4 linked regions of the Homo sapiens genome follow. The protein of the gene in region 1 interacts with the protein of each later gene in a pairwise test. Each region holds a gene or a part of one and is shown in the gene's direction. Other genes may lie near its edges.

What was found.
Region 2: the proteins of TRIM36 (region 1) and GRB7 interact in binary tests that used the Homo sapiens proteins (3 or more experiments, as listed by UniProt).
Region 3: the proteins of TRIM36 (region 1) and GLRX3 interact in binary tests that used the Homo sapiens proteins (3 or more experiments, as listed by UniProt).
Region 4: the proteins of TRIM36 (region 1) and UBE2H interact in a two-hybrid assay, tested with the Homo sapiens proteins (one large-scale study listed by BioGRID and IntAct).

What each region holds. Positions count from the first base shown.
Region 1 is NC_000005.10:115,122,300-115,130,322, reverse strand, and holds the end of TRIM36 (E3 ubiquitin-protein ligase TRIM36), read left to right. Parts: intron 1-3,465; coding exon 3,466-3,820; 3' UTR 3,821-5,551; downstream 5,552-8,023. UniProt on the Homo sapiens protein: E3 ubiquitin-protein ligase which mediates ubiquitination and subsequent proteasomal degradation of target proteins. Involved in chromosome segregation and cell cycle regulation. May play a role in the acrosome reaction and fertilization.
Region 2 is NC_000017.11:39,743,481-39,751,427, forward strand, and holds the end of GRB7 (growth factor receptor-bound protein 7), read left to right. Parts: intron 1-589; coding exon 590-727; intron 728-1,072; coding exon 1,073-1,183; intron 1,184-1,405; coding exon 1,406-1,504; intron 1,505-1,621; coding exon of another isoform or gene 1,622-1,762; coding exon 1,763-1,843; intron 1,844-1,941; coding exon 1,942-2,058; intron 2,059-2,247; coding exon 2,248-2,308; intron 2,309-2,432; coding exon 2,433-2,520; intron 2,521-2,628; coding exon 2,629-2,722; intron 2,723-3,270; coding exon 3,271-3,417; 3' UTR 3,418-3,805; downstream 3,806-7,947. UniProt on the Homo sapiens protein: Adapter protein that interacts with the cytoplasmic domain of numerous receptor kinases and modulates down-stream signaling. Promotes activation of down-stream protein kinases, including STAT3, AKT1, MAPK1 and/or MAPK3. Promotes activation of HRAS.
Region 3 is NC_000010.11:130,161,311-130,169,333, forward strand, and holds part of GLRX3 (glutaredoxin-3), read left to right. Parts: intron 1-5,196; coding exon 5,197-5,369; intron 5,370-5,608; coding exon 5,609-5,670; intron 5,671-8,023. UniProt on the Homo sapiens protein: Together with BOLA2, acts as a cytosolic iron-sulfur (Fe-S) cluster assembly factor that facilitates [2Fe-2S] cluster insertion into a subset of cytosolic proteins.
Region 4 is NC_000007.14:129,938,438-129,946,460, reverse strand, and holds part of UBE2H (ubiquitin-conjugating enzyme E2 H), read left to right. Parts: intron 1-8,023. UniProt on the Homo sapiens protein: Accepts ubiquitin from the E1 complex and catalyzes its covalent attachment to other proteins. E2 ubiquitin conjugating enzyme that transfers ubiquitin to MAEA, a core component of the CTLH E3 ubiquitin-protein ligase complex.

The sequences.
Region 1 (8,023 bases):
TAACATGTTACCTATGTCATAAAAATTACCCACGTATATAATACAATGCGTCTGATTGTCATACTTCACAGTTAAGTTGTTCTTTTCTTATGGGACACAGTTTCTTTAAACTTTCCCATAAGTCCTTTTCAAAATTGGGTCATGGTAGACATATTTCCGCAGCAAAGACTTCCAGTTTCTTAAGAGATTGACTAATGAAGATTGTACAGTTCAGTTCTTTTAGATGGAATAAGGTCAACTAGCTTTGAAAAATAATTTTTGACCACTCATGTGAACAGTATCCCAGCTTAACAATCTGAATGATAGGAAAAGCTTTCTTCAGAAAGATAAAAAATTTATATAATGCTGAAAATTTTAACAGTAAAACATAGTGACATGTCCACTTGATAGAAAATTAGTATTAATGTTTAAAAAGTTCATAACATGAGAAATACTAGAAGTGGAGAAACCTAGTAAACGTTGTTGATGCAGTATTATCCAAAATATATAAAAAGCAACATAGGCATATTGAAAAAAATGGGGAACATGTTTCAAAATTTTATATAAGTTTTTTATTGTTTTATGATAAAGGTGAAAAAGCTTCATAATCTTTGTTTGCTTCATACATCCATGATGAAATCCCAACCAGGAAATAGAGTTCTTAGGATGAGAATGAAACATGCTTTTTTCTCTTGCATTATTTTACAGTGCTCATATATTTCACTTAGCCTGGTAATCCTTGGTTTAGGGCATACATCTTATCTTTGTATTTTCTTTTCTTTTTTGAGACGGAGTTTTGCTCTTGTTGACCAGGCTGGAGTGCAATGGCGCGATCTTGGCTCACCGCAACCTCTGCCTCCCGGGTTCAAGCGATTCTTCTGCCTCAGCCTCCCAAATAGCTGGGATTATAGGCATGCACCACCACACCCGGCTAATTTTTTTTAGTAGAGATGGGGTTTCTCCATGTTGGTCAGGCTGGTCTCGAATTCCCGACCTCAGGTGATCCACCTGCCTCAGCCTCCCAAAGTGCTGGGATTACAGGCGTGAGCCACCGCACCTGGCCTGTAGTTTCTTATACATTTATGTATTAGCTTAGCAACAGGAATATGTTCTGAGAAATATATTGCAAGGCAATTTCATTGTTGCGAGAACATCATAGAGTGTTCTTACACAAACTTAGATGGAATAGTCTCCTACACCCTTAGGGTATGTGGAACAGTCTTTGGTCCTAGAATACAAACCTGTACAGCATGTACTGTAATACTGTAGGCAATTTTAATGCAACAGTAAGTATTTGTGTATCTAAACATAGAAAAGGTACAATAAAAATAAGTTATAAAAGATAAAAAATTGTATACTTCTATAGGGTACTTACCATGAATGGAGCTTGCAGGACTGGAAGTTCTCTGGGTGCATCCATGAGTGAATTTGAAGGCCTAGGACATTGCTGCACACTACTGTAAACTTTACAAACACACTATACACTTAGGCTGCACTAAATTTATTTAAATGTATTCTTCTTTAAGAAATTAACCTTAGTTTTATAAACTTTCAATTTTTTTTTTTTTTTTTTTTTTTTTTTTTTGAGACGGAGTCTCGCTCTGTCGCCCAGGCCGGACTGCGGACTGCAGTGGCGCAATCTCAGCTCACTGCAAGCTCCGCTTCCTGGGTTCACGCCATTCTCCTGCCTCAGCCTCCCGAGTAGCTGGGACTACAGGCGCCCGCCACCGCGCCCGGCTAATTTTTTGTATTTTTAGTAGAGACGGGGTTTCACCTTGTTAGCCAGGATGGTCTCGATCTCCTGACCTCATGATCCACCCGCCTCAGCCTCCCAAAGTGCTGGGATTACAGGCGTGAGCCACCGCGCCCGGCCTAAACTTTCAATTTTTAAAAAAACTTTTTAACTCTCTTGTAGGAACACTTAGCTTAAAACACAAACACATTGTACATCTATATACATTTTTTTTTTTTTTTGAGATGGAGTTTCGCTTTTGTTGCCCAGGCTGGAGTACAATGGCATGAACTCGGCTCACCACAACCTCCACCTCCTGGGTTCAAGCAATTCTCCTGCCTCAGCCTCCCGACTAGCTGGGATTACAGGCATGCGCCACCACACCCAGCTAATTTTGTATTTTTAGTAGAGATGAAATTTCCCCATGTTGGTCAGGCTGGTCCCGACCTCAGGTGATCCGCCCTCCTCAGCCTCCCAAAGTGCTGGGATTACAGACGTGAGCTACCACTCCTGGCCCCCCCCAATTTTTTTTATAGCCTTGTTCTACAAGTTTTTTTTTTTAATTTTTTAAATTTTTAACATTTTAAGCATTTTTGTTAAAAATGAAGACACAAACATAATAGCCTATCCAGGGTCAACATCATCAATATCATCGTCTTCCACTTCCACGTCTTGTCCCACTGGAAGGTCTTCTGGGGCAGTAACATACATGGAGCTGTCATTTCCTAGGATAACAGTGCTGCCTTCTGGAAAACCTCCTTAAAGGGCCTGCCTGAGGCTGTTTTACAGTTAACATTTTTTTAAATAAGTAGAAGGAGTAAGTCTACAATAACAATAAAAGCATTGCATAATAAATACATGAGCCAGTAACAGTCACTTATTAAATATTACATAATGTACATAATTGTATGTGTTACACTTTTATGTAACAACTTTAAGCACTGTTTACACCAGTATCACCACAAACATGTAATGGGTTACACTACAGCCTTACAGTGGCTACCACGTCACTAAGCTATAGGAATGAATGAATGAATGAATTTATTTATTTAAGACAGGGTCTCGCTCTGTTGCCAGGACTGCAGTGCAGTGGTGCTATCTCGGTCCACTGCAACTTCTGCTTCCTGGGTTCAAGTGATTCTTATGCCTCAGCCTCCCAAGTAGCTGAGACTACAAGCGTACACCACCATGCCTGGCTAATTTTTGGATTTTTAGTAGAGATATGGTTTTGTCATGTTGGCCAGGTTGGTCTGGAACTCCTGGCCTCAAGTGGTCCTCCTGCCTTGGCCTCCCAGAGTGCTGGGATTACAGGCATGAGCCACTGCACCCAACTGAAATATTTTAGTTTCATTATAGTCTTACGGGACCACTGTGGTATATGAGGTCTGTTGTTCACTGAAATGTTCTGTGGTACATGATTGTACATGATTGTGTGCTATAAAAATTTAACATTTGACCAGTTATCACTGCCCGCTCCCTCACTTTTTGGAAGGCTAAAATTATCAATGATTTTCTAGGGTTTCACTTCTGTATATAACTAAAGCAGTGTTTAATGACAGGGAATTTGGGGCTGAGTCTGTGGTATAATTCTAAATTGTAATGTGTCATTTTTATGTTTTTGATTTTGTTTTAATAGAAAGCTTTTGATGTAAAAACTATTTTAACTTTACATCAATGTATATTATCCTGTGAAAATGTTTTGAAGATACTTAGATCTATTGTTGAAGATACAGATGCTTTGTATTATGTTTCAGATATGAGCAAGACAGTGGGCATGACAGTGGAAGTGAGGATGCCTGTTTTGATTCTTCACAACCATTTACCTTAGTTACTATAGGCATGCAGAAATTTTTTATACCCAAGTCACCTACTTCTTCTAATGAACCTGAAAATAGAGTTCTCCCTATGCCAACAAGTATTGGGATTTTCCTTGACTGTGATAAAGGCAAAGTAGATTTCTATGATATGGATCAGATGAAATGCCTTTATGAACGCCAAGTGGACTGTTCACATACACTGTATCCAGCATTTGCATTAATGGGCAGTGGAGGAATTCAGCTTGAAGAACCCATCACAGCAAAATATCTGGAATACCAAGAGGACATGTAGTTGAAACATCTGATGTGACTCAGGATAAAAACTGTAAACAAAGCAATGCCTTAGCGTTAACCTTCGTAACTAATTACATATCGCTGAGTGTTCTGTCACCCCACTTGTGTTTGAGTATGATTCTTCTTGAAATACAGAAAATCTAAACAGCCTTGTGTCTTCATGTCGTTGTTCTGCCTTTCACAAATGATGAAAGTGAAGATGTTCTTTCCAAGTTAATACTGAAGTGGTTAACTTTGCAACTGGACTGTCTTTTACTTTATGTACAGGATATCTAATTTATTTCTGTCAGCTGGTGTTGCTGACACTTTCCTTATGGTGGGGGGGATACAAAAGTATTTATTATGATTCTCTTCTGTTTGACTTTTCATTTTTATATCATGTTTATGTCCTAAGAGAAGATATTTTTTAAATGCCTTATGGATAGGAATTAGTACTAAGCAATGTGTCTTGCATTTGTTTTCAATAGGAAAACAAAGTTCTAGATAGGTTAAAAGAAAAACACCATAAAAGTGGTAGTATATTTAAGTGGAAAATTATGTATTTTAAAGTGTGTAACTATTAAAAATATATTGCCTGGAAAAGGAATACTACTGTTTTGTTTTGTTAAGACCACAAACTGTATTGCTAAGGACATTTTAAGAGTCTGCTTAGCCATAACACTCATTTAACAGCATGGGTAGTAAGCATGGTTTCTTGCAGAAAACACAAAGTTCTCAGCTAACACATTAAACTTCTCACTTTATATACTTTTTTTCAGAGAAATTTATCTTTAGTTTTTCTTATTCTGTGAAAATATTTGTTCTTATGTCAAAGAATTATTTTTCAGATATATTGGTAAAGATGGACTGATATTAAAAGTCATATTTATTCTTTTACCCCCTTACTGTGTTTTGTGATTTTCATTTTTGGCCCAATTATTACATATCAGGTTTTCCTGATTTATATTTACATGTTTGAAAAGTTCATTATATATTTTAGTAGCGTTACATATATTATAAATTTTTGTAACATTTAAATGTTCACTTATGTGGCATTTTCTGTTTCTCATTGGTAATAAGCATTTCTAATATAAGCAAGTAAAAATACAAATTTAATTACTTAGAAATGATAACTAAGATCACAATGACTGTGTACCCTTTAAAATATCTTTTAATTTGAGGAATTACATTCTATCTAAATTGTGTGTCTGTTTTTGAAAGGTGTTGCTTTCAAGTAGGTGGTTTTTATTTAAAGTACTTATTTTTTTGAGGTTAAAATATTCAGAAACTACTTTTATGCATTGTAGCAGTAATCATTTATGGAATGCTTTTGACATGTTTTAACAGGGTAACCAAAACTTTTAGGCCTGTTTTTTTTGGTTGTCCTTGTTGTTATATTTTTAATGGAAATCTGTTACTCAGGCTGGTAGCATTAAATTAGCTTTTTACCCTCAACTCAAGTAGCAAATATCATGGAGAACTTCAGTGTTTAGCAGGCTGTTAATTTCCCATCTATGAATAGCACTTTATGATGTAGGCTAAACTAAGCAAATAATGCAGCGTTATGTGGATCATTATGCAATAAAGCTGCTAAAGTCACATTTGTGGTTGATACTCAAGCCTTGTACAAGCACATATGATGTAGACATTTTTAAATGTGAAGCTTTAACAGGAATAGGATAGCTGTTTCAAACCTTGTGCAATTGTAAATAAATTGTTTAGCTGTGTTTCTTTCATTTTTAATAAAAAATTAAAAAGAATTCATGTGTAATTATTCAGATCTGCATTCCAGGAATTTTTAGTATGTTTACATGAAAAGTTGAAACAAACTGATTATGAAAAGATGATTAGCTGTACATATTAACTCAGAGCTACAGTTTTATATGAAATCATTTTGAACATTTATTTATTAGCTTAATTTCTGTGAAAGTGATTATTAGAGAAGCTTAACATAAAACTTCAATTGTTTCATATATTAAATTTTTTTAATATAAAACAATATAAAATTTTATTTTTTTATTACATAAGCTAATAATAATAGTGCAAGTTTGTTCTTTTATCCCCAAAGGAAAAATATGGTAAAAGTTATATCTTGACTAAGGATCTGAGGGTCAACATTTTAATACCAAAATGCTGTGTTTATAATTAATATATTCAAAATATACTCATCTTTAAACCAAATGTTATATACTAAAAGACATCAGAAAGTATCTACTAAATAGTACAATATAGTAACCACCTTGTAACACTGTACTTAATATAGCCCAGTTTTATAAAATACTGTAAATAGTTCTACCGTCTAAGCAATTCTAGATTTTATTTTTCCCTTTGTGCAACAAATCAGAATGCGTGATTATAGAATGCTAAAAGCTCTTGGAGATACTTTGCCAGGCATCTTTGAGGAGAAATTTTAGAGAATCAACGACACTTGATTAAGCATTTATGAACCATAAGTTTTTCTTCTGCTCTCCTGTGGAAAAAAAACAAACATAAAATAAAACAACAAACCATATTGGCAATTGCATATGTTTATAAACATTCCATTATTTTTTTTTTCTGTTTTAATTATCTTTTAAGATGAAATAATCTGTCCATAGGCTAGAGCAGCAAGTTTATGCAAGAGAATATGAAAACATCCTTCCTTCTAGTAGAATATGTATCCATAGTGCATGATGTCCACTGAAGTTTGTAATATTTTTACATGCAATGTTACTATTGCAGTTATTAACAACCTATAATGTTTTGCACATAGTAGGCTTTCAAATGCTGTTAGGATTCAACATGGGACATAAAGCCTAAGAATGGAACCAGATTCCCTAGGGTTTCAGTATTTGATTTCTAGATGACTAGAAGACTGCCCTGGTGTAATCTATGTGTCTTGGAATTTTTTTATGGTGATGAACAAAGTAAACATTTGACCTGGAAATCACTGGAAATATTCGAACCAAACAAAAGAGTAATAAAAAGTAAACCTATCCTTAACTTTAAAACCAAGCATGGGTTCTTCTGGTTGATGGGTGTATAGTTGAGAAAGCATATTTCTCCAGAACTATTCAGTTTCACTGACAGGGAAGTATTTTTTGGCACAATAACCAATTATTGAATTATTTTATTTTATTTTATTTTATTATACTTTAAGTTCTAGGGTACATACGCACAACACGCAGGTTTGTTACATATGTTTACATGTGCCATGTTGGTGTGCTGCACCCATTAACTCATCATTTACGTTATGTATATCTCCTAATGCTATCCCTCTCCCCTCCCCCACACCCCACAACAGGCCCCGGTATGTGATGTTCCCCACCCTGTGTCCAAGTGTTCTCATTGTGCATTTCCCACCTATGAGTGAGAACATGTGGTGTTTGGTTTTCTGTCCTTGCGATAGTTTGCTCAGAATGATGGATTCCAGCTTCATCCATGTCCCTACAAAGGACATGAACTCATCCTTTTTTAATGGCTGCATAGTATTCCATGGTGTATATGTGCCACATTTTCTTTATCCAGTCTATCATTGATGGACATTTGGGTTGGTTCCCAGTCCTTGCTATTGTGAATAGTGCCACAATAAACATACGTGTGCATGTTTCTTTATAGTAGCATGATTGATAATCCTTTGGGTTTATGCCCAGTAATGGGATGGCTGGGCCAAATGGTATTTCTGGTTGTAGATCCTTGAGGAATTGCCACACTGACTTCCCCAATGGTTGAACTAGTTTACAGTCCCATCAACAGTGTAAAAGTGTTCCTATTTCTCCACATCCTCTCCAGCACCTGTTGTTTCCTGACTTTTTAATGATTGCCATTCTAACTGGTGTGGGATGGTATCTCATTGTGGTTTTGATTTGCATTTCTCAGATGGCGAGTGATGATGAGCATTTTTTCATGTGTCTGTTGGCCACATAAATGTCTTCTTTTGAGAAGTGTCTGTTCATATCCTTTGCCCACTTTTTGATGGGGTTGTTTGATTTTTTCTTGTAAATTTGTTTAAGTTCTTTGTAGATTCTGGATATTAACCCTTTGTCAGGTGGGTAGATTGTAAAAATTTTCTCCCATTCTGTAGGTTGCCTGTTCACTCTGATAGTAGTTTCTTTTGCTGTGCAGAAGCTCTTTAGTTTACTTAGATCCCATTAGCCAATTTTGGCTTCTGTTGCCATTTCTTTTGGTGTTTAAGTCATGAAGTCCTTACCCATGCCTACGTCCTGAATGGTATTGCCTAGGT
Region 2 (7,947 bases), on another chromosome or scaffold:
CCCCCATTTCACTGCAGATTCACGACTCCCCAGCATTGGCCAGTGCTTCTCCACCCTTAAGTCCTGTGCCTCCCCTCTATGTTGTAGAAAGAGCCAAATCACAGTCCTGTGTGACTGGGGACAGTCACTTTCCCTGCCTGAGCATCAGTTTCTTCTATTAAATGGGGGCGAGAAATGCATGTGGAGCATTTCCTTGTAAAAACCTGAGGGTGGGCTGGGCACGGTGGCTCATGCCTATAATCCCAGCACTTTGGGAGGCTGAGGCGGGAGGATTACTTAAGCCTAGAAGTTTGAGAGTTTGAGACCAGCCTGGGCAACATAATGAGACCTCGTCTCTCCAAAAAAAAAAAAAAAAAAAAAAAAAAGGCCAGGAATGGTGGCATGAGCCTGTAGTCCCAGGTGCTTGGGAGGCTGAGGTGGGAGGATCACTTGAGCTCGGGAGGTCGAGGTTGCAGTGAGCTGTGATCGTGCCACCGCACTAGCATGAGACCCTGTCTCAAAAAGAAAAAGAAAAAGAGAAACATCCTGGTGGTAGAGGGGAAGGGAGGAGGTCAGACCTGTCACTCTCCTCTGCTCTCCTCTGGCTCAGAACTTCCTGAATGCTGGCAGCTTTCCTGAGATCCAGGGCTTTCTGCAGCTGCGGGGTTCAGGACGGAAGCTTTGGAAACGCTTTTTCTGCTTCTTGCGCCGATCTGGCCTCTATTACTCCACCAAGGGCACCTCTAAGGTAAGGTCTTGAGGGTACCAGCCCCAGCCCCTCCAGTCCCTGGTCCTTTTAGAAGTTGCCCCTTCTCTGCTGGAACCTCTGAGCCCTTCTCCCCCTGGGCCCCCCAGGCCAGCCACCTCCAGTTTACCATCTCTCCCTACATCCTTGCCTAGCTCACCTGCCCAGGGAGGTAGCAGGAGAAAAGATGATCTTAGTTTAAGTCCTGGCTCTACTTCTATTTGCTGTGTGACCCTGGGTATTCCCCTGCCCCTCTCTGGTCCTGAAATCTCCCCACCTGGCTTGTGGGGGGAGGTAATAGTGGGCGGGATCTACCTGTACCAAGTCCTGCTCACTCATGCTGCTTAGGATCCGAGGCACCTGCAGTACGTGGCAGATGTGAACGAGTCCAACGTGTACGTGGTGACGCAGGGCCGCAAGCTCTACGGGATGCCCACTGACTTCGGTTTCTGTGTCAAGGTGAAGACCTGGCCAGGCCTGGCCCCTGGCCTGGGGAAGCAGGAACTGCTCAGGCCCCTGGATCCTGCCCGGGGCTTCTGAGCCCCAATTCAGACACCTAGACTCCTCTCCCTGCACCCTGGCCTGCTGGAAACTCCTGGATTCAGCTCTGCTATGTGGAGCAGGGGCAGACATGTGGTCCTAAAGGCAGATATGGGACCAGTCAATTTCCTCTCTCTGCAGCCCAACAAGCTTCGAAATGGCCACAAGGGGCTTCGGATCTTCTGCAGTGAAGATGAGCAGAGCCGCACCTGCTGGCTGGCTGCCTTCCGCCTCTTCAAGGTGAGACCCTGGGAGTGGCATGGGGGGCTGGCCTGGCCAGAGGGATCCCCAGCTCTGCCCTCAGGAAGTCTCAGGAATGAGGAGGGCATCACAGCCTTGCTCTCTGATAACCCCCAGTCCAAGCCTGAAGTTATAGGAAGTGCCCATCGAAGGCAGAAACACAGCCCTGGTCTGGGCAAGTCCTGGTCTGAGGGGGGCGTCACAGCCACGCCCCCAGGACCTCTCGACCTCAAGCTCTCTTTCTCTCCCCACCCCCAGTACGGGGTGCAGCTGTACAAGAATTACCAGCAGGCACAGTCTCGCCATCTGCATCCATCTTGTTTGGGCTCCCCACCCTTGGTGAGTGTGCCCAAGGGGATGGGAGGGTGGGTATGCAGGCCCTGTCTTACGGGTACCTGGGCCCTGTTCTGACCTCTCTCCTCTCCTTCCATCTCCAGAGAAGTGCCTCAGATAATACCCTGGTGGCCATGGACTTCTCTGGCCATGCTGGGCGTGTCATTGAGAACCCCCGGGAGGCTCTGAGTGTGGCCCTGGAGGAGGCCCAGGCCTGGAGGGTGAGGCCTGCTGTGTGTGTGTGTGTTTGTGCTGGGGACCCACTCTCTGGGTGGGATCCCTGAAATAGGAGGGAGGAAGAGAGGGCGGGGGGAGGCCCCTGGCTGGGAAGAAGTGCTCTACCTTCCTGAGGTGCTGGGTAATGCCCCCAAGCACGCCCCGACTCTCCCGTATCTCCCACTGCTCCACAGAAGAAGACAAACCACCGCCTCAGCCTGCCCATGCCAGCCTCCGGCACGAGCCTCAGTGCAGGTGGGTGACGGCCCCGAGTCCTGGGGCGGGGGCTGCCTCAACTTCTCTTTGTATTCCCAGTGGGGAGTAGATGGTATAGGGGTCCCCTCCCCAAAGTGACCGCCCATGTCCTTCCCCACCACAGCCATCCACCGCACCCAACTCTGGTTCCACGGGCGCATTTCCCGTGAGGAGAGCCAGCGGCTTATTGGACAGCAGGGCTTGGTAGACGGGTAAGGGGCAGGGCCGGGCAACAGACCCAGGGATAAGAGAGACTGGGGTCCAGGTGGCAGCCATGGTCCTTGGGTAGTAATGCTGCCCCATCTCCTGTCTTCTGGCAGCCTGTTCCTGGTCCGGGAGAGTCAGCGGAACCCCCAGGGCTTTGTCCTCTCTTTGTGCCACCTGCAGAAAGTGAAGCATTATCTCATCCTGCCGGTGAGCTTCCCTGCGTCCCCGGAGTCCTGCAATGAGACACAGGACTCCCAGCAACCTGTCCTCCTCACCAGGCCCCTCCAGAGGCTCCCTGGCCCCCAGTGCGTCTCCCTTTTCCCTGCACAAGAAGTGGGAGGCTGAGTGCGGTGGCTCACACCTGTAATCCCAGCACTTAGGACGGCCAAGGTGGGAGAATGGCTTGAGCCCAGGAGTTCGAGACCAGCCTGGGCAACACAGGGAGACCCCATCTCTACAAATAATTTAAAAATGAGCCAGGCATGGTGGTGCACACCTGTAGTCCAGCTACTCAGGAGGCTGAGGTGGGAGCATTGCTTGAGCCCAGAGGGTCAAGGCTGCAGTGAGCCATGGTGGCACCACCACACTCCAGCCTGGATGACACAGTGAGAAAACTGTCTCAAAAAAAAAAAAAGAAAGAAAAAGAAAAAGAAAAAAGAAAAGAATAAAAGGAAATGGTGGGGCCCTGGCCCAGGAGGGAGCTTCCCAAGCCTCGGGCCCCTCCCTGAACTTCCACCCCCTTTACTGTACCCCAGAGCGAGGAGGAGGGCCGCCTGTACTTCAGCATGGATGATGGCCAGACCCGCTTCACTGACCTGCTGCAGCTCGTGGAGTTCCACCAGCTGAACCGCGGCATCCTGCCGTGCTTGCTGCGCCATTGCTGCACGCGGGTGGCCCTCTGACCAGGCCGTGGACTGGCTCATGCCTCAGCCCGCCTTCAGGCTGCCCGCCGCCCCTCCACCCATCCAGTGGACTCTGGGGCGCGGCCACAGGGGACGGGATGAGGAGCGGGAGGGTTCCGCCACTCCAGTTTTCTCCTCTGCTTCTTTGCCTCCCTCAGATAGAAAACAGCCCCCACTCCAGTCCACTCCTGACCCCTCTCCTCAAGGGAAGGCCTTGGGTGGCCCCCTCTCCTTCTCCTAGCTCTGGAGGTGCTGCTCTAGGGCAGGGAATTATGGGAGAAGTGGGGGCAGCCCAGGCGGTTTCACGCCCCACACTTTGTACAGACCGAGAGGCCAGTTGATCTGCTCTGTTTTATACTAGTGACAATAAAGATTATTTTTTGATACACCTATGAGTTCTGTCTGGCAAGGCCTGGCTGGCTGAATCAAGAAGGGAACCAGAGCTGGACGTGGTGGCTCATGCCTGTAATCCCAGCACTTTGGGAGGCCAAGGTAGGAGAATTGCTTGAGTCCAGGAGTTTGAGACCAGCCTGGGCAACATGGCAAGACCCTGTCCCTACAAAAAATAAAAAAATGAGCCGGGCATGGTGGTGTGCACCTGTAGTCCCAGCTTCTCAGGAGGCTGAGGTGGGAGGATCCCTTGTTCCTTGAGCCTGGGATGTCAAGGTTGCAGTGAACTGAGATTGTGCCGCTGCACTCAGCCTGAGTGACAGAGTGAGACCCTGTCTGGAAAAAAAAAGAGGGGAGACCTGGAGAGGTGGGCACCTGTGGAGGCCTTGGTGGAAGTGTCAAATGGATCGAGGCCATGTCTCAGCCTGCCTGGATGTTCCTCAAGGGCAGGAGTGGTTATCTGAGAGTCTCCAGTGCCCACCATGCAGCTTGACACATAGTAGGCGCCCAGTCATTGCTAATTAAGTAAGTGAATAGACAAGAGACCATCATCCCAGAGAGATTTTCTGACAGTCTAAGTCTAGAGAGGTAATTAACAGGGCCTGGGAGTTGGAGATGAGTCCGACAGCATGCTTGTCCTCCGCTAGTCCTGGACTAGCTGACGGATAGTTGGCCCCAGCATGCACACAGTTATGCATCCAGCCCCACCACCAAGACACAGAATGGCCTCATCACCCCCAACAAGTCCCTGTGCCCCCTACTATCAGCCATGCTCCCTCCTACCCAAACTGAAACCTCCTTTCTGTCCTAGTTCTGCCCCTTCCAGAAAGCCATATAAATGGAGCCTGCTAGCATTCAGCCCTCTGCATCTGGCTTCCATCTCCAACACATCCTTCAGCACCCAGAGTGATCTTTTCTCAAATATAAATTCACCACTCCCGGCAGGGCACTGTGGCTCACACCTGTAATCCCAGCACTTTGGGAGGCCGAGGCGGGCGGATCACGAGGTCAGGAGTTTGAGACCAGCCTGGCCAACATGGCAAAACCCCATCTCTACTAAAAATACAAAAATTAGCTGGGCATGGTGGCGGGCACCTGTAATCCCAGCTACTAGGGAGGCTGAGGCAGGAGAATAGCTTGAACCGGGGAGGCAGAGGTTGCAGTGAGCCAAGATCATGCCATTGCACTCCAGCCTGGGCAACAAGAGCAAGACTCAGTCTTAAAAAAAAAGACAGATGTCTGGCCTCTGCCCACTGCTCATGCCAGTCTATGTTTTTGTCTTAGAGGTTTTTTTGTTTTGTTTTTTGAGATGGAGTCTCACTCTGTTGCGCAAGCTGGAATGCAGTGGCACGATCTCAGCTCACTACAACCTCCTTCTCCTGGGTTCAAGCGATTCTCTTGCCTCATCCTCCCAAGTAACTGGGATTACAGGCGCTTGCCACCACGCCTGGCTAATTTTTTGTATTTGTGGTAGAGACGGGGTTTCACCATGTTGGCCAGCCTGGCCTTGAACTCCTGACCTCAAGTGATCCACTCACCTTGGCCTCCCAAAGTGCTGGGATTACACACCCAAGCCACTGCGCCTGGCCTTGTCTAAGAGTTTTTTAGTTTGAGCTCTTACCTGATGGGAGCTCTTTAATAAATATGTCAGATCGACTGCATCTGAACTTGCTGCTTAACTCAGGAGACAGACCCTCCTGCAGACCTGTGAACCCCAACTAGTCATTGTTTTTGTCAAAACACCAAACCTGAATCTGATTCCTTGGATTCAACAACTAGTTTACGGGAAATACAAGGGAAACAATGACAAAAATCCAGATTGGGAAATTCTACAGAACAGATAACCCAGTTTCTTCTTCAACAGCAACAAAATTACCAGAAAAGATGGGCAATCTCTAGATTTCAAGAAATTTAGACATATATCAACCAAATGATGTGTTGACCTTTGATTCAAATGCAAACTAACTGTAAAAAGCATTTATGAGCAATTGGGGGAAATTTGAATTCTGATCAGATATTCGATGATATTAAGGGATTATGGCTAACTTTCTAAGGTGTAATAATGGTATTGCAGTTACGGTTTTTTCTAAATCTTTATCTTTAAGAAATTCATTATGAAGTATTTAAAGGTGAAATCACATGATGTCTCAGCTTTGTTTTTATTCCTTTTCTTTTTTTTTTTTCCAACTTTTATTTTAGATTCAGGGAGTACATGTGCAGGTTTATTACCTGGGTATATTGAGTAATGCTGAAGCTTTGTTTTTAAAATAACCCAGAGGTGGCCAGGCACAGTGGGTCATGCCTGTAATCCCAGTACTTTGGGAGCTGAGGTGGGAGGAGTTTGAGACCAGCCTGGGCAACATAGTGAGGCCCTCTCTACAAAAATAAAAAATAAAAAATTAGCCAGGTGTGGTGACATGCATCTGTGGTCCCAGCTACCTGGGAGGCTGGGGTGAAAGGATCGTTTGAGCCCAGGAAGTCAAGGCTGGTGTGAGCCATGATTGCATCTCTGCACTCCAGCCTGGGCCACAGAACATGACCTTGTCTCAAAAAATAAAAAGAAAAAAATGAAATCCAGAGGTTAAAGGAGAGGGTGTGGGCATAGTCATGGTGTGGCCATGAGTTGACACTGGCTGTTGATATTGGTTGAAGCTTGGTGACAGGTACTGGCTATGTGGGGATTTGTTAAATTATCCTCTCCACCTTTGTATATGCTTGGATATTCTATTATATATTGATATATTTTAATGGAGAGCCCCTTCTCAAATCTTTGGGACTGACTGGGCAGGAGGTGGTGAGACGCTGTTTTGTAGGTGAGGAAACTGACGGCCCAGTGGGCAGCCTGGCCCCAGATCACAGTGGGAGAGCCAAGATTCCAACCCAGGTCTGAGGACCAGGTCTGGGCATGTTCTGCTTCCCCTGTCTGGCTGACGTCCAGGTGGCATTCCTCAGCCACAGTGACAGCAATAGTGGCCTACTGGGGTCCTCCCTTAGAGAGCCCCTCCCTTCCCTGCAGCCTTGGTCTCTGGCCTGGAGGGTTGTCCTGAGGTGACCTTGAGACTGTGCAGCCTCTGCAATCAGCCCCTGGGCTGGGTCTGGCAGCCCTGGCAGCCACTCCCGACCAAGGCACCCCCATCCTTGGCTAACTCCAGGCTGGGAAGCTGGGACCAGGTCCAGCAGACAGAGGTGGGCAGAGAGGTCTCATGCACACCCCAGCCTGGGACCTCCTGGGAATCTGCTGGAAGAACTTACTGCAGCCCAAGGGCAGGAAGGGTGGCAGATTTTGCTTCTTTTTAGCAGGACTGGAGGCAGGACCCAGTGCAACCTGCTGCCTGCCACCTGCCACGGTTCCCAGAGCCATCCCCACCACAGGCTGTGGCTCGAGCACCGAACAGGGCAGTGTCAGCTGTGTGGCTGGCCATGGGTGCCCAGGGCCACCTCCGAGGTGTGGGTGCCAGAGTTCCAGGCTGGAGTGAGAGTAAAGGGGTCAAGATGAGTCACCTCTTCAGCATGTCCAGGGGTTCAGACTGTAAAAAAAGAGGACCCAGTGTCCCTTCACAGCCTGAGGCACTGGGCAGAGACAAAGCCTCTCTGTCAATCAGCTAATTGGAGACTGTGAGACAGATGTCCTTCCCACTTTACAAATGGGAAACTGAGGCTCAGGGAAAGACAGGGACTCACCTGCGACAGGGGTCGCAGAGGGAGTTCGGGACAGAGGCCAGACTCAGCCCACTGGACAGGTGGTGAAATGCAGCCCTGCCCTGCTCTAGCCTTTGTTCTCTGCCCCCTCCCTTCTCAGTGCTGGCCACAGTGAGGGACCTAGGCTGCCGAGAGCCCTTAGAGGGGGCAGCATTTGGCCCTGATCTGGCCACCTGAGACCAGCAGCAGCCCATTCTTGGTGAGTGTCTGAGATTTCTGGCTTTTTGGAGACGTAGCTGCTAAGAGTTTGGGGGCACAGGGACCCTCTCAGGGCCAGCTCACAGTGGAACCCCTGGGTAAGATCCCCCAGCTCTGAGGATGTGGGAAGGATGCTGCTCTACCTCAGAGACTGCAGCATGACCTACAGTGGTCAGACAGCAGAAAGGACTGCCAAGGACGGCTGCAGTGCTAGATCGGGGAGGCTTGTGGTTCTGAGAAAAT
Region 3 (8,023 bases), on another chromosome or scaffold:
GATTAGGTTCCAACTACCATATTGCTGTCTCTTTTGCCTGTTTATCTACTTTTGCTGTTAACAGTTATTTTTTCTTTCTTGGCAGCCTCCTGTTTTTCACCTAGTTCAGATTCAGCAATTAAAAAATTTGCGGAATTTTTCAGTGTTTTTGTGTCCAGCCTGTGTGCTTTTGCCTCCCCTGTGTCATCACTGTCTAATGATTCTCTTCCTGCATTGCTGTCATTTCCAGTTTATAGCTGCTGGTAATGGAAAGATTCCGAATTCTTGGCTTGTAGTCACTCTTATTTTCTGTACACATGGATGCTTATAATTTTGTCCTTAAGTAAGTTTTAGAGTTATTTGACCCCTCTGGTAGTGGGTTTATGTTATTTTCTTTTTACTGTGCCTAGTACAACATTAGTATGCTGCATAATTGAGCATTTAATGCCATTTGATGATGCTGTTGAGACTCTAAGAGTATTTGTATCAACTACACAGGAGGGACTTTATTAAGATAGGGGCAGTAACATTGAGTATGCTCTTGATATGATTACAGCATGTCCAGAGTGACTTTATAAAGATAGCCAAGCTTCTAGTGTGAATTTGATTCTAAATTCTTCCCTGTAGGGTTATTAAATTACATATTAGCTTATGATAATGTCTAGTTTTAAAAATAAAGTTTCATGATGAATTCTTATTTTTTCGAGATGGAATTTCGCTCTTGTTGCCCAGGTTGGAGTGCAATGGCACGATCTCAGTGCGACGGAACCTCTGTCTACTAGGGGTCAAGCGATTCTCCTGTCTCAGCCTCCCGAGTAGCTGGGATTACAGGTGTCCACCACCATGCCCGGCTAATTTTTTTGTATTTTTAGTAGAGATAGGGTTTGTCCATGTTGGTCAGGCTGGTGTCAAACTCCTGACCTCAGGTGATCCGCCTGCCTTGGCCTCCCAAAGTGCTGCTGGGATTATAGGCGTGAGCCACCATGAATTCTGTCTTAAAAGTATCTCTTAGTTCTGCCTAAAAAATTTCCCTGCCAGTATTTATGTGTCAGATAATGCCTGCTATTTGTGTATTGCAAAGCTAACTTAGTCTGTACTAAACTAAAGGTAGCAACAGATAGTCTCTGTTGCGTTTGTTATTTTGTTTTTAACGGGGGTTGCAAATGGTTCACATTCACCTTCTTCCATGAAACATGAAAATTATTTCTTGTACTTTGTGCGGTGGCCACTAAATGGGAACTTACCACTTCAGTTGAATGGATTGTATTCAGCACCTTCATTCAGATCTCAGGTACAGTAGAACTGGCTGTGAAATGTGGGTGAAGCACACCTACAGTGAAATCTCTACAGTATTCTCTCCTTTGGGGTTGAACAGCAGCAGTCTCAGTCTTTTCTGAATGATAAACCTAATGAAAAGGCAGGTGGCAACACTGAAGCTTGGGGAAGGAGTGCTCAGAGGAGAAGGATGTCCTGGGAAGTGTGCTGCACTGGGTGTCATGCCAGGCGAGCCTCAGGCCCACCCCTGCGGCCTTAGCAACTTTGGGGACAAGTCAGGTACCCTCCTTGTGCCTTTAATTCCTTCTAGTGCTGTTGGGAACAAGATTGGCTGTTGGAGCCAATCTTGGAGGGCCTTTTCAGTGTAGATATTGTATGATTATTCAAGTAAATTAGAGAGAAACTTAGACATTTTAATTTTTCTGCTTACCTTTTACTTTATTAAACTGAATTTAAAATATACTGCTAGCATTTTTATATTTATATTAAACTTATTTAAATTATGTTTATTATAATGGAGTGAGATTTGGAAGACTGTACAAATAACAGAATAAAAAAGAAGCTTTGAAATATTTCAGGGCTGGGCGTGGTGGCTCATGCCTGTAATCCCAGCACATTGGGAGGCTGAGGTGGGCGGATCGCTTGAGATCAGGAGTTCGAGACCAGCCTGGCCAACATGGCGAAACCCCGTCTCTACTAAAAATACAAAAATTAGCTGGGCATGGTGGAGTCCTGTAATTCCAGCCACTTGGGAGGCTGAGGCAGGAGAATTGCTTGAACCTGGGAGGCAGAGGTTGCAGTGAGCCGAGATCGAGCCACTGCACTCCAGTATGGGTGACAGAGTGAAACTCTGTCTCAAAACAAAACAAAACACATTTCAGAGCCATCTGAAAACGTAGTATTATAGTTATTTAATTAATAAAAGACAATAAATATTTTGAGATACATATGGTTGAATGGTTACAGTTTCTTCTTTTAAAGTACTTCTATATAATTTTTATAACTACATTTTCAGTGGGTTTTTCTGTTTCCTGATATTTTCTGTTTCATGTCTTTCTGTCACATATAGTAAATAGATCATTTAAGAATGTTGCTGTTCTTTAATAAAATACTTAGGATTAATTGGAAAATATTTTTAAACTGTTTTCTTATGGGAACATAAGTCACCTCGACCCTCTGCTGTTCCTTTCTGAGCCTGGTTAGTGGAGCATTGTTTTTGCTCTTCTTCTGGCATTTTAGAGAAGGGCGTAGGCAAAGCTCCCTTTATAAAAGCACTGGCCATCTCATCTTGTGAACACGCACGTGGCTGCTCTTTCCTTATTTTGCACCAAATTAGCTTTGAAAGTGCTATCTCTGCTAACACCACTGAACTCCCACTGCGGAGTATTTTGATGTTTGTTTTTTGATTAGTTTGTCCCCACCTTGCTTTCTGCTAATCAGAAAAACATGAATGAATAACATTTAAATTTTATATCTAGAAAACCTTGAAAGCCATTTTTAGGGTCTCTCCTGGAGCCCCACTGGACTCAGCCTAACCCCTGCACAGGTCATGTCTCCATCTTCTTATCCTTCATGTGGGCTCTACCTGCAGAATTGTATGGTGTGTTATGAGCCTGACGTGTAGATAGGGTCTCAGTTGAAAAGAATTGGATTGTCCTTACTCTGTGCTCCTCATGAAGATGGGAAAATGCTTGTTTTAGGAAGAGTTTCCAGAAGCACTGAGGTATATGTCATCTTAAACAGAATCTTAAATCCTTGAGCAGGTTAATTATTTGGGAATTCTTATAACTATTTCAGTTAACAAAGCTTTTAGCAAAGCAAAAGGTATTTGAGGCATAGTCAGATATTCCTTCTGCAGTGAGAGTCATCCAGCCGGGCTCTTACTTTTGAATCAGCCACAGAATCAGGTTTCAGAGATGTTTTTTAGGGTTTATTGTTAGGTAGTGATGAGATGCGGTGTTAGGCACCTATTCATGTCATGAGTAGAAATGACTGGGGGTGGAAATGGGGATTCTGTGGCAGTTAAACATTACTTTTCTACATTTAAATATTTTTATTGCATGCATGCATTTTTCTTAAAAAAAGGTGTGTAAATATTTTGTTACTAGAATAAAGCCTTCTTGCCATCTTATCCTTAAGCGTAACATTTCTAGTCTGCCACTTTAACTCTTAAAAATGAAACACTACCAATCAATCTTTCTAGTCTGCATGTAATTGCCTAAAGCTAAAATAAAGCTTCTTCTCAGCCAGTTACAGTAAAAATGAGTTAATATATTGGCAACAGAATAACCATCAGCAATCAGCCGTTAGCTGTTTACTAATGAACTCCCAGATGAATAAAAAAATTTCAGAATCAGTGTTTTACTTCAGGCTGTACATGAACTTAACACTTCAGATGTAGGAAAAGCAACTTATATGCTATACAAATAAATACTAGTGCTTCATCTCAATAAACTGCAGATTTGGAAAATGTTTAGAGCTCACTTGTAGATCCATGTTTTAATAGTAAATATGATTTTGGGTGACATCAGTAAAGCCCATTCTTGCAATTAATCTTATATTGAATTTTATGGTTTGATTTTATTTAAAAACAATTGCTGACACTGCTAAGTCTTATAGAAATTTTGAATCTGAAGAATAGGTTCTTTTCCAGTGAATTACAACTGTGTTTGAGAAGAAGAATGAGGCGTGAAAGAGTAGGGCCCTACATAGTATTGGGAACAATGGAGAAGAATTAGCTTATGGAAAGAAAAATACTTTTTTTTTCAGACTAGGCTAATAGGTTTATAAAAGACTGATATTCACACTCTTATTCTTCAGTTATAATGTCATAATAAGATGATGTCAAAAAAGTACAGAATAAAAATGTGTCACAAAAGTATAATAAAATCATGGAACATAAAATTGTCGCTATAGTGTAGTAAAAAAATTACATTACATACTTTAGGGAATGTAAATAGTTTTAAAAAAGAAACTGTCAAGTTATGACATGAGATGAGAAAGAATACCGTCAATCTATTGATGGTTCATATATAACAACAGAGAAGATAGCTTTAAAATTCAATGTACTGTGTGTATTTTAGACTACAGGAGAACACATGCCTTCTTGATTTCTAATTTATCCTACTTAGAGATAGTGAAGATTGAGAACTACTGAAGTGGGAACTCAGGAAGTAGTAAAATGGCAGTAGAAATGCAACAGCATTGGGTTTTAAGTATAGTCAAGTAGTAGTTAAAAATAACAATTGTAGAATTTTTTCATCTGCCCAGAATTGATTCTCATAGATTCATAACAGAAAGGCTGGGAGGGACTGTCAGAGCATCAGGTCAGTCTCCTGATTAGTAGGAAAGTGCTGAGCGGAGGCCACCCATGGCCTCATCATGTGTCACCTTGGTGGGTGGAGGGAGCAGGTGTCAGATTCAGATTTCTGGTTTTGTTTAAAGACAAGGTCTTGCTTTATCACTCAAACTGGAGGCTGGAGTGCAGTGACAATCTCATAGGTCGCTCCAGCCTCAGACTTCTGGGCTCAAGTGAGCCTGTTGCCTCAGTTTCCCCAGTCTCTGGGATTACAGGTGTGCACCATCACCCCCAGGTCTCTGCTTTTTGGCTAGTGCTATTTCTCCTGTGACAAAAAATGTCCATGATATTGAAGAATAACTTTAATAAATACACACACCACTTTTTTTTTTTTTTTCAGTAGTCACAGTTGTGTCAAAAAGTTAAGTCATATCTGAGTGTGTGATATGGTTCAAGGTCAAATAAGGGGATCCAGGAATTTATTTTCTCTTTGTATATTATTCAGCCATGCTAATTAAATCACCAGCAAAATAAGGCAGGCGTCTATGTCTTTTAGATGATATGTACGCTGAACTAATGTATTATCATGTGTATGTGTTTTGGGAGAGAGAAGTTAAGTGCTTTATTTCTTTTTTTGTGTACAGGTTTCAGCAAGCAGATGGTGGAAATTCTTCACAAACATAATATTCAGTTTAGCAGTTTTGATATCTTCTCAGATGAAGAGGTTCGACAGGGACTCAAAGCCTATTCCAGTTGGCCTACCTATCCTCAGCTCTATGTTTCTGGAGAGCTCATAGGAGGACTTGATATAATTAAGGTTAGAATTGAGAAGTCTGTGCTTTGTAAAGAAATTCCATTTAGAGCATACTTTTTAAAATGTTGTGATAAATCTAAGATACAAATTTCTTATGAATCTATATTTACTAATAAGAACCTGCAATGAATACACAGTATTTCTGATTAGTTGATTGATCAATAATCTGTGTTATGGTATGATCAAGGAGATTTATGTTATAATAATTTTTTTCATAAAACTGGTATGTGTGCTTATTTTAGGAGCTAGAAGCATCTGAAGAACTAGATACAATTTGTCCCAAAGCTCCCAAATTAGAGGAAAGGTAAGTGTTTTAGAAGGTTTCAAATAGCCTATCATTTAATATATTAAAAATATTTTAAAGTCCTCAGGTTTTGCATTGCTCTTTCTGTGTAGAAATCAAGGATTTGGTATGCCAGACGTCATAATTGTTTAGTCACATTAGCCATTCAAACTTTGGCAAATCTAATTTGTATTGGAGAAATTTTAGCACCAACTTAGTGATCATGTGGAGGATCTGCTTTGCTTTTATAGAAATGTCATTGTTTCTGTGGAACAACCAAGTTTTGCTTACCTCTCTGCATTTCAGAGCCAGGGTCCAGTTGTTTTGTCACTGCTCCTTGGCGTAACCTCAGCACACTCGTGTTTTACTGGGTGCAGCCTTGGTGACTGCTGCGGGTGCTGCCCCAACGCCAGAGCACTGAGTGACAAGTGGTGAGTGTGAAAAACTCATCACCTCGCAACAAGCTTTGAGCACTTCTCATGGCCTTTCTAGACCACGAGAACTTACATGAACAGATTTTGGAGGTGTGAAACATGTATTTGTTTTATCAAGGATCTCACTTGGCTTTTAGAGACGTTCTCTTACAGAAATGTTGGACTTTGGTGTGTAAGGCAACTTAATGGGATTTTTATTGCAGTAAAATTAATATAGAACTTTAAAAAGGAATTTATTATATCAGCAATCAGCCATTCATAGTTGGGGCTGGAGATTGTAAGATAAACCTTCCTTTGGTAATTTTTTTTTGCCATGTAACATCTTGAGAATTTCTAAAAGTGTTTAATAATAATAAATACCTCATTTGTCTGTCGTTAATTAATAATTTCTATAAACAGCGTCCAATCCACGTATGTCAGGCTGATCTTTGAGTGCCGCATTCTGTCCTGTGGTTGGTACCATTTCCTGTGTTCTTCATGAGAAAATGATACTCCTCATCCCTTTTTTGACTCTGGGCGTCTTCATGTGTGGTTCTTGCCTGTAGCCTGGTGATGCCCTTGGCCCATGGAGGCTGTGTGGTCTCCAAAGACAGCTGTGTTTTTTATATGCTTGTATTTGCTCTTCAGTTGATTTTCCTTCTCTGCTGAGTGCACTTGCCGCTGTTAATGGCCTTGTCTCCATCAGACCTCCGTTTCCTAATGTGCTGCTTCTAAATCTGTGCTTGCAGACACCAAAGGGTAACGGGCTAGAATTATGTCGGAAGGAAAATTCAGCATATTTGGAGTAATAATTTAAAGGGCTCCGAGTGAGCAGAGTGTAGGAAGTGGAGTTCATGGACTTGTGACATGTATTTTGGCAGTACTTTGTGAGCTGTGGTTCCCTGTATCCAGGTGACTGGGTTAGTTAGTTGGGTTGTCAGGGTCAGCATTGTATTCCTATATCTGTTCATATTTTTCTGAACTTGAGCTAATCCCACTCGGTTGGCAATGTAAGTGATACAGCTTTGTGCGTGATTGATGCATTTCATTTGGGATGAGTTTATAAGGATATTTATTATTATTTTTTTTTGAGACGGACTCTGGCTCTGTAGCCCAGGCTGGAGTGCAGTGGTGCTATCTTGGCTCACTGCAAGCTCCGCCTCCCGGGTTCACACCATTCTCCTGCCTCAGCCTCCCGGGTAGCCGTGACCACAGGCGTCCGCCACCACGTCCGGCTAATTCTTTTGTACTTTTTAGTGGAGACGGGGTTTCACCGTGTTTTGCCAGGATGGTCTTGATCTCCTGACCTCGTGATCCACCTGCCTCAGCCTCCCAAAGTGCTGGGATTACAGGCGTGAGCCACCGCGCCCAACCTCTAAGGAGATTTTTGAGCTGTGAATTGGGAGAACATGGTGGCGTGACCCCATGGGGCTTAGGTTCTTTAGTGACCCGTTGTCCCAGCACTGACTTTTCTTGAGATTTGTGACTAAACTTGTGGCTGTATACAGATAATTAAAATTCCTGACAGCATGTTAGATTATGATGTTTGAAAGACTATATAAAATATAAAACATGTTAAGATGAGAGAATTTGATTTTAGTATCTGGCATTAGTTGATGTTCTGAGGTTTAACGCTGTCACCCTGCAGTCCGACCTTGTGAGCTTTACACGTGTACAGTGGTATGCAGCATCATGATGGAAGATGGTGCACACAAGATCTAGTTCTGGAAGTTTTGGATGGGCTTAATATATAGGCCCCTTATTGAACAATTCCTTACTGAATTGGTTATTATTATTATTTTTTTATTACTGTGAGTTGATGGGCTTAAATTGCAACTTGAAGGAACATTCGTTGCCTTAAAAGCCATATTGTGTTTTACAGTGGCTTAGGGAGAGAATGAAATCAAGGAAAATGTCAACGCATTTGCTTGTTTAATACCACTCAAAGCTGTGAACTGTCA
Region 4 (8,023 bases), on another chromosome or scaffold:
AGGATGTATTGTTTTCAACCTGTTGATCATACTGTATGTGTCTGCCCTGTTTTTGCTTAATATTTTTGCAACTGTTTTTCCCAGTTAAAAATAATGACTAGGGGCCGGGCGCGGTGGCTCACGCCTGTAATCCCAACACTTTGGGAGGTTGAGGCAGACAAATCATGAGGTCAGGAGATTGAGACCATCCTGGCTAACATGGTAAAAACCCATCTCTACTAAAAATACAAAAAAAAAAAAATTAGCCGGGCGTGGTGGCGGGCGCCTGTAGTCCCAGCTACTCAGGAGGCTGAGGCAGGAGAATGGTGTGAACCCGGGAGGCGGAGCTTGCAGTGAGCAGAGATAGCGCCACTGTGCTCCAGCCTGGGCCACAGAGTGAGACTTCGTCTCAAAAAAAAAAAAATAATAATGACTAGGCTGGGCACAGTGGCTCATGCCTATACATCCAGCACTTTGGGAGGCTGAGGTGGGCAGATCACCTGAGGTCAGGAGTTTGAGACCTGCTTGACTAACGTGAAGAAACCCCATCTCTACTAAAAAATACAAAATTAGCTGGGCGTGGTGGCGCATGCCTGTAATCCCAGCTACTTGGGAGGTTGAGGCAGGAGAATCAATTCGCTTGAACCTGGGAGGTGGAGGTTGCGGTGAGCTGAGATTGCGCCATTGCACTCCAGCCTAGGCAACAAGAGCGAAACTCAGTCTCAAAAAAAAAAAAAGTAGCTCATGTAATATGCCATCCCATGGCTGTGCCATTGATTTAATTCTTTGCCATTTTTCTCTGATGAATAAGATTGAAATTAACATCTTTGTGCATAGGCTTTTCTTTGGGTTATTTCTGTTTTCCCGAAATGGGATTCTAGATCAAAGAAGGTAAACATTTGAATTAAAATATTTAATTAAAAATCTCAGAGCCCTACACTCAGCGGGCTCTTGTTTTGTTGTGTTGTGTTTTAGTTGGTATCGTTTTGGCACTGAAATAGCCTGGCATAGTGATTAAAGATGAATTCTAATTTCCTCATTGTTTAAACTTTGATGTTTTTTGTGATAATGGTGATCCTCAATTTAGGCATAATTTTGTATTCTCAGAGTGCATACTGCAAGTCGGTAGGTTAAATATATTTATGAGCAGATAGATCTAACAGGAACTGTAGAATTAGTTTTGGCATCTTGGATTCTTTTTTGTTATTGAGGTATAATTGACATACAGTTAACTGTACATATTTAAAGTGATACTTTTGATAAGTTTTAATTTTATGTATCACCCATGAAGCTTATCCTTATCAAGAGAGGAGACATATTTATCTTCCCCCAAAGTTTCTTGTGGCCCTTTGTAATCTTTCCCTCCCTCCCTTCCAACCATTGATCTCATTTCTGTCACTGTAGATTATTTTACATTTTCTAGAATTGTATATATAAGCGGAATCATTCAGTACATACTCTTTTTGTGTGGGTTCTTTCACTTATAATTCTGAGATTCACCCATGTTATTTAGTTCATTTTTTTTTTATTGCTGAGTAGTATTCTATTATGTGGATATACCACAATTTGTTTATGCATTCACCTCTTAATGCTTGGTGGCATTTGGGTTATTTCCAGTTTTGGGCTATTACCAGTAAAGTTGCTATGAACATTGTATGGATATACGCTTTTTTTTCTCTTGGCTAAGCTAGATCATGTGGTAGGGTTTGCGCATGCGCGTGCGTGCGTGCGTGTGTGTGTGTGTGTGTGTGTGTGTGTGTGTGTGTTTTGAGCGCATGCGCACGTGTGTGTTTTGAGACAGGATTTCACTCTGTTGCCCAGATGAGAGTTCATGGTGTGATCTCAGCTCACTGCAGTCGTGGCCACTTGCCTGGCTAATTTTATTTTTTTTGTAGAGATGAGGTCTCACTGTTGGCCAGGCTGGTCTCAAATTCCTGGGCTTAAGTGATCCTCTGGCCTTGGCCTCCCAAAGTGCTGGGATTACAGATGTAAGCCGCTGTGCCCAGCCATGTTTAACACGTAGTTTGAATTTAATGTTTACTGATGATGGTCCATATTTCACACCCAAATAAAATTGTGACAACGGTTGTTTCACTTGTGTGTTTTGTTTTGTTTTGTTTTGTTTTGAGACGGAGTCTTCGCTCTGTCGCCCAGGCTGAGTGTAGTGGCGCGATCTCGGCTCACTGCCAGCTCCGCCTCCTGGGTTCACGCCATTCTCCTGCCTCGGCCTCCTGAGTAGCTGGAACTACAGGCACCCGCCACCAAGCCTGGCTAATTTTTTGTATTTTTAGTAGCGACAGGGTTTCACCATGTTAGCGAGGATGGTCTTGATCTCCTGACCTCATGATCTGCCCACCGTGGCCTCCCAAAGTGCTGGGATTACAGGCATGAGCCACAGCGCCTGGCCTCACTTGTGTATTTTAAAGGAATCATGTTAAATTACATGCTCTTAAAGCACTGATTTATTTTTTATTATTAACCTTATTTTATAGTATATGAATTTTGTTAATTTTTTTATCAATAAAACAAATTTTACCACAATGATTGTGATACCTTTCACTTGAATAATGATTTAAACACTTTATCTTCCTTTTTTAAAGACAGAATCAGTCTCGCTCTGTCGCCCAGACTGGCTCTCTGCAACCTCTGCCTCCTGAGTTCAAGCGATTCTCCTGCCTCACCCTCCCGAGTAGCTGGGATTACAGGGGCCTGCCACCACACCCAGCTAATTTTTGTATTTTTAGTTAGAGACAGGGTTTTGCCATGTTGGCCAGGTTGGTCTTGAACTCTTGACCTCAGGTGATCCGCCTGCCTCTGCCTCTCAAGTACTGGGATTACAGGTGTGAGCCACGATGCCTGGCCAATCTGGTTTTTTGTTTGTTTTTGTGTTTGTGTTTTTAGACGGAGTCTGGCTGTGTTGCCCAGGCTAGAGTGCAGTGGTGCGATTTCAACTCACTGCAACCTCTGCCTCCCGGCGCTTGGCCTAAAGCATTGATTTCTAGCTGAATTTGGTTAAAGCTGATTTGGTAGCTACTCTTCTCTCCCCACCCCCATTTGAAATTAGTAAATTAAATTTTTATTGTGAAATATTTTTGTTAGCCTGAGCTACATGGCAAAAGCCTATTTCTACCAAAACAGATAAAAAATTAGCCAGGTATGGTGGCATGCACTTGTAATCCCAGCTACTCTGGGGGCTGAGGCAGAAGGATCACTTAAGCCCAGGAGGCAGAGGTTGTGGTGAGTTAAGATCATGCCACTGCAGTCCAGCCTGGGTGACAGGGCAAGGCCCTGTCTAAAAAAAATGTTTTGTGGCCCTTTGAAATTACACTTTAGGAATCTGGCCGGCCATAGTGGCTCATGCCTGTAATCCTGGCACTTTGGGAGGCTGAGGTGGGCAGATCACCTGAGGTCAAGAGTTCAAGACCAACCTGGCCAACATGGCGAAACCCCATCTCTACTAAAAATGCAAAAACTAGCTGGGTGTGGTGGTGCACACCTGTAATCCCAGCTACTCAGGAGGCTGAGGCAGGAGAATTGCTTGAACCTGGGAGTCGGAGGTTGTGGTGAGCCGAGATTATGCCACTGCACTCCAACCCCGGGGAACAGAGCAAGACTCCATCTCAAAAAACAAAAAAAAAAACACATTACACTTTAGGATCATAGTCACAAACAGCAATTTTATTTTTATATTTGCTAGTAAGGCTCTATATCTTTGTGAATAGGTAAGCACACTTTTTGTTGATGGTATTATTTTCTTTGTAAAGTATTGATAAGATTTTTTTTAACATTTCTTTAGCATTTCTAGTGAAGTTTACAGCAGTTGATAAATATTTCTGGAGCACTCTGTTGAAGTCTGAATAATATCTTCAATTTTCACATGGAATAAACTCAGGTGAAAGGAACTAACAGCAGCTCAGTGACAGAATGGGAAACAGACTATAAGAGTTAGGATATCCTTTGATATCATGCTTTCCTGGAATTTTTGTGTGTGTGAGAGACGGAGTTTCACTCTTGTTGCCCAGGCTGGAGTGCAATGGCATGATCTCGGCTCACTGCGACCTCTGCCTCCCAGGTTCAAGCGATTCTCCTGCCTCAGCCTCCTGAGTAGCTGGGATTACAGGCATGTGCCACCACGCCTGGCTAATTTTTTATTTTTAGTAGAGAGGTGATCCCCCTGCCTTGGCCTCCCAGAGTGCTGGGATTACAGGTGTGAGCCACCGCGCCCAGCCTGGAATTTTTTGAAGCTTTTTTTTTTTTTTTTTTTTTTTTGAGACCGAGTCTCACACTGTCACCTAGGCTGGAGTGCAGTGGTGTGATCACAGCTCACTGCAGCCTCGAACTTCCGGATTCTGAACTCAATCCTCCTGCTTCAGCCTCCCGAGTAGCTGGGACTACAGGCGTGTGCCACCACACCTGGCTTACTTTTGTATTTTTCGTAGAAACAGGGTTGCGCCATGTTGGCCAAACTGGTCTCCAACTCCTGGGCTCAAGCGGTCTGGCTGCCTTGGCCTCCCAAAGTGTTGGGATTACAGGGGTAGCCACTGTGCCTGGCCTTAAGTTAATTTTTAGTGAAATGGTGCTTAAAATTTTTTTTTGGCATCTTAAGAGTTATTTGATAGGTTATTGGACACTGCCATAATAAAATTAGACATTGATTTGTAATAGTTGTTGTTACATTCTTTCTGATAAATTATAAACAATTTATCTTATGGACATTTACATGTGTGTTGCTAAAAAAAAATTAAAGCTGGATTCAGTGGCTCATGCTTGTAATCTCACCACTTTGGGAGGAGTGCTTGAGCTCAGGAGATTGAGGGTGCAGCAAGCCATCATTATGCCACTGCACTCCAGCCTGGACAACAGAGTGAGACCCTGTCTCAAAAAAAATTAATATTACTGACAGCTGGAACTTTTAGTTTGGCTAACAAAAAGGTGACCTGGCTTGTACCTGTTTTAGTTTGGAGCAATGATAGTATGTTTGGTGAGTAGACTGTTTTGGTATTCAGACACAGGAATGGTGCCCTGAGCATATAAATTCCAGTGTCTTGGCCAGACGCAGTGGCTCATGCCTGTAATCCTAGCACTTTGGGAGGCTGAGGTGGGCAGATTGCTTGAACTCGGGAGTTCGAGACCAACCAGCCTGGGCAACATAGTGAAACCCTGTCTCTACTAAAATACAAAAAATTAGCCGGGCATTGCTTGAACTCAGGAGTTCGAGACCAACCAGCCTGGGCAACATGGTGAAACCCTGTCTCTACTAAAATACAAAAAATTAGCCGGGCGTTGCTTGAACTCAGGAGTTCGAGACCAACCAGCCTGGGCAACATGGTGAAACCCTGTCTCTACTAAAATACAAAAAATTAGCCGGGCGTGGTGGCTTGCGCCTGTAGTCCCGGCTACTTGGGAGGCTGAGGCAGGAGAATTGCTTGAACCCGGGAGGTGGAGGTTGCAGTGAGCTGAGATGGTGCCATTGTACTACAGCCTGGGCAACAGACTGTGACTCCGTCTCCAAAAAAAAAGATTCCAGTTTGTTATTTTCTATGCTGAAGTGTAATTCGAGTGCATTGTAGAAACTTTTGAAAACACAGTAGTCTGTTGAGAGGCTGTTGTTGCATTAGTGATTCTCAATTGGGTATCACATTGGAGAAGAATTAAGCTTTTGGGGGCCCAGGTACTATGGTTATTGTAATTTCTTCTCTGTACCTCACCAGATGCTTGGGGAAGGTGTCTGGTTGTTTATAGGCTGGTGCTCAAGGGGGTATCTGCCCATGACCAGTAGAACCCAAATCCTCAAGAGCCTGGGGAAGCCCTACATGGCAGCCATATGCTTAAGAGGGAAGGAGGATCCTTTTTGCCTCTCCCTGCTTTGTAGGTATCTAGGACGTTATGTAGGCAGTGTGAATAGTTGCTGCTGATCTTCTGACCTGTCCCTGCAGAGAAGTCAGAGAGAGGAGTAGGTAGCCCTTGTGAAGGGAGAGGCTTGGCTGGACTTTGCCATTCTCTGGAAGACTTTGCCATTCTCTAGAAGATAGGCATGGTTGGCGGGTCTGTCAGTGGACTCAAAAAAGGCACCTGTTCTGTAGCACTTGGAGGATCCATATTTAGGATATCAATTAATTGAGAATGTAATCTTTGTCTTTGGTTCAATCTCCTGGTTTCTAACTTTTAAACCATTTTTAGGGAAGCATTATATGTGAAGGTAGGAGATACTCCCTACATACAAAATCATGTTATTAATGTTGTGAATTATGCATTTCCTTTTTAGTATTAGGCAACTTTTTTTCATATATCAAGTTATCATGTACACTTTTCAAGGTTTTTTGGATTATAAAATCTTAGTTGAGGTAATATAAATAGAAAACTAGATACAGAGTGCGTGTCTGGTTTGTGTTACCTCAGAAGCAATTGGGCTGTCACTTAGCCTAGCAAAAAGTAAATTTAGTTGTTTTGTCCAAAGGGTGCCAGTATAACTTTGGTAATCTGGATTTTGCTTTTCTTTCTTTCTTTCTTTCTTTTTTTTTTTGAGATGGAGTCTCATGTTGTCGCCCAGTCTGGAGTGCAGTGGCTCCATCTCGGCTCACTGCAATCTCCGCCTCTCAGGTTCAAGCGATTCTCCTGCCTCAGGCTCCCGAGTAGCTGGGATTACAGGCACGCGCCACCATGCCCGGCTAATTTTTTGTATCTTTAGTAGAGATGGGGTTTCACCATGTTGGCCAGGCTGGTCTCAAACTCCTGACCTCGTGATCCACCTGCTTTGGCCTCCCAAAGTGCTGGGATTACAGGCATGAGCCACCGTGCCCAGCCTGGATTTTGCTTTTCAATTTGATGACTATGTTGCATAGACAGTTGCTGATAAGTTGATTAATTTAAAAATTCAGAATTTGGTTGGACATTTCCATTGTAGCATTTGTATGTAGAAGGTTGATTGGTTAAAGTCATATCAGTAAGAGATCACCAAGAGTAATATATAGATGGATATAATGTTTTCATGGTCTTACTGCTGGATGTTTACTACCCTTTTGCTATTCTTGAATCTAAACCTGTAAATAAATTAGTGATTCTCCTTGGCAGCAAAGCTTGGAACTATATAACTCTTTTAATTGTATTCCGAAAGAAGGAAACTGGGTAACAAATGCTCACTTTCGCTGGTTGCAGTGGCTCATTCCTTCAGTCCCAGCTACTGGGAAGGCTGAAGCAGGAGGATTGCTTGAGTCCAAGGCTGTAGTGTACAATGACTGTGCCTGTGAATAGTCACTGCATTCTCCCACCTGAGCACTATAGTGAGACCCTGTCTCTAAAAATTAAAAAAACAGTCACTTTTATATGGCATTTGGTTCTCACAGCTGTGAATTGTACTTGATCAGATCATTAATTCAAACTAGAGGCCGGGCGTGGTGGCTCATGCCTGTAATCGTAGCACTTTGGGACGCCAAGGCGGATAGATCACCTGAGGTCAGGAGTTCGAGACCAGCCTGGCCAACATGGTGAAGCCCCATCTCTACTAAAAATACAAAAGTTAGTTGGGTGTGGTGGCAGGCGCCTGTAATCAAAGCTGCTCGGGAGGCTGAGGCAGGAGAATTGCTTGAACCTAGGAGGTGGAGGTTGCAGGGAGCCGAGATCGCATCACTGCACTCCAGCCTGGTGACAGACTGAGACTCTGTCTCAAAAAAAAACAAAAAAAACAAAAAAACAAAAACATCAAACTAAGCCTACAAGTACATAATCTTGTGAGGGGAATCTTGGACAGTTTGGGTCGGCTTTGTTTTTTTTTTTTTGAGACGAAGTTTTGCTCTTGGCGCCCAGGCTGGAGTGCAATGGCGTAATCTCGACTCACCACAACCTCCGCCTCCCGGGTTCAAACAATTCTCAGCCTATCGAGTAGCTGGGATTACAGGCATGTGCCACCATGCCCAGCTAATTTTGTATTTTTAGTAGAGACGGGTTTCTCCATATTGGTCAGGGTGGTTTTGAACTCCTGACCTCAGGTGATCCACCCGCCTCGGCCTTTCAAAGTGCTGGGATTGCAAGCATGAGCCAGCCTTTT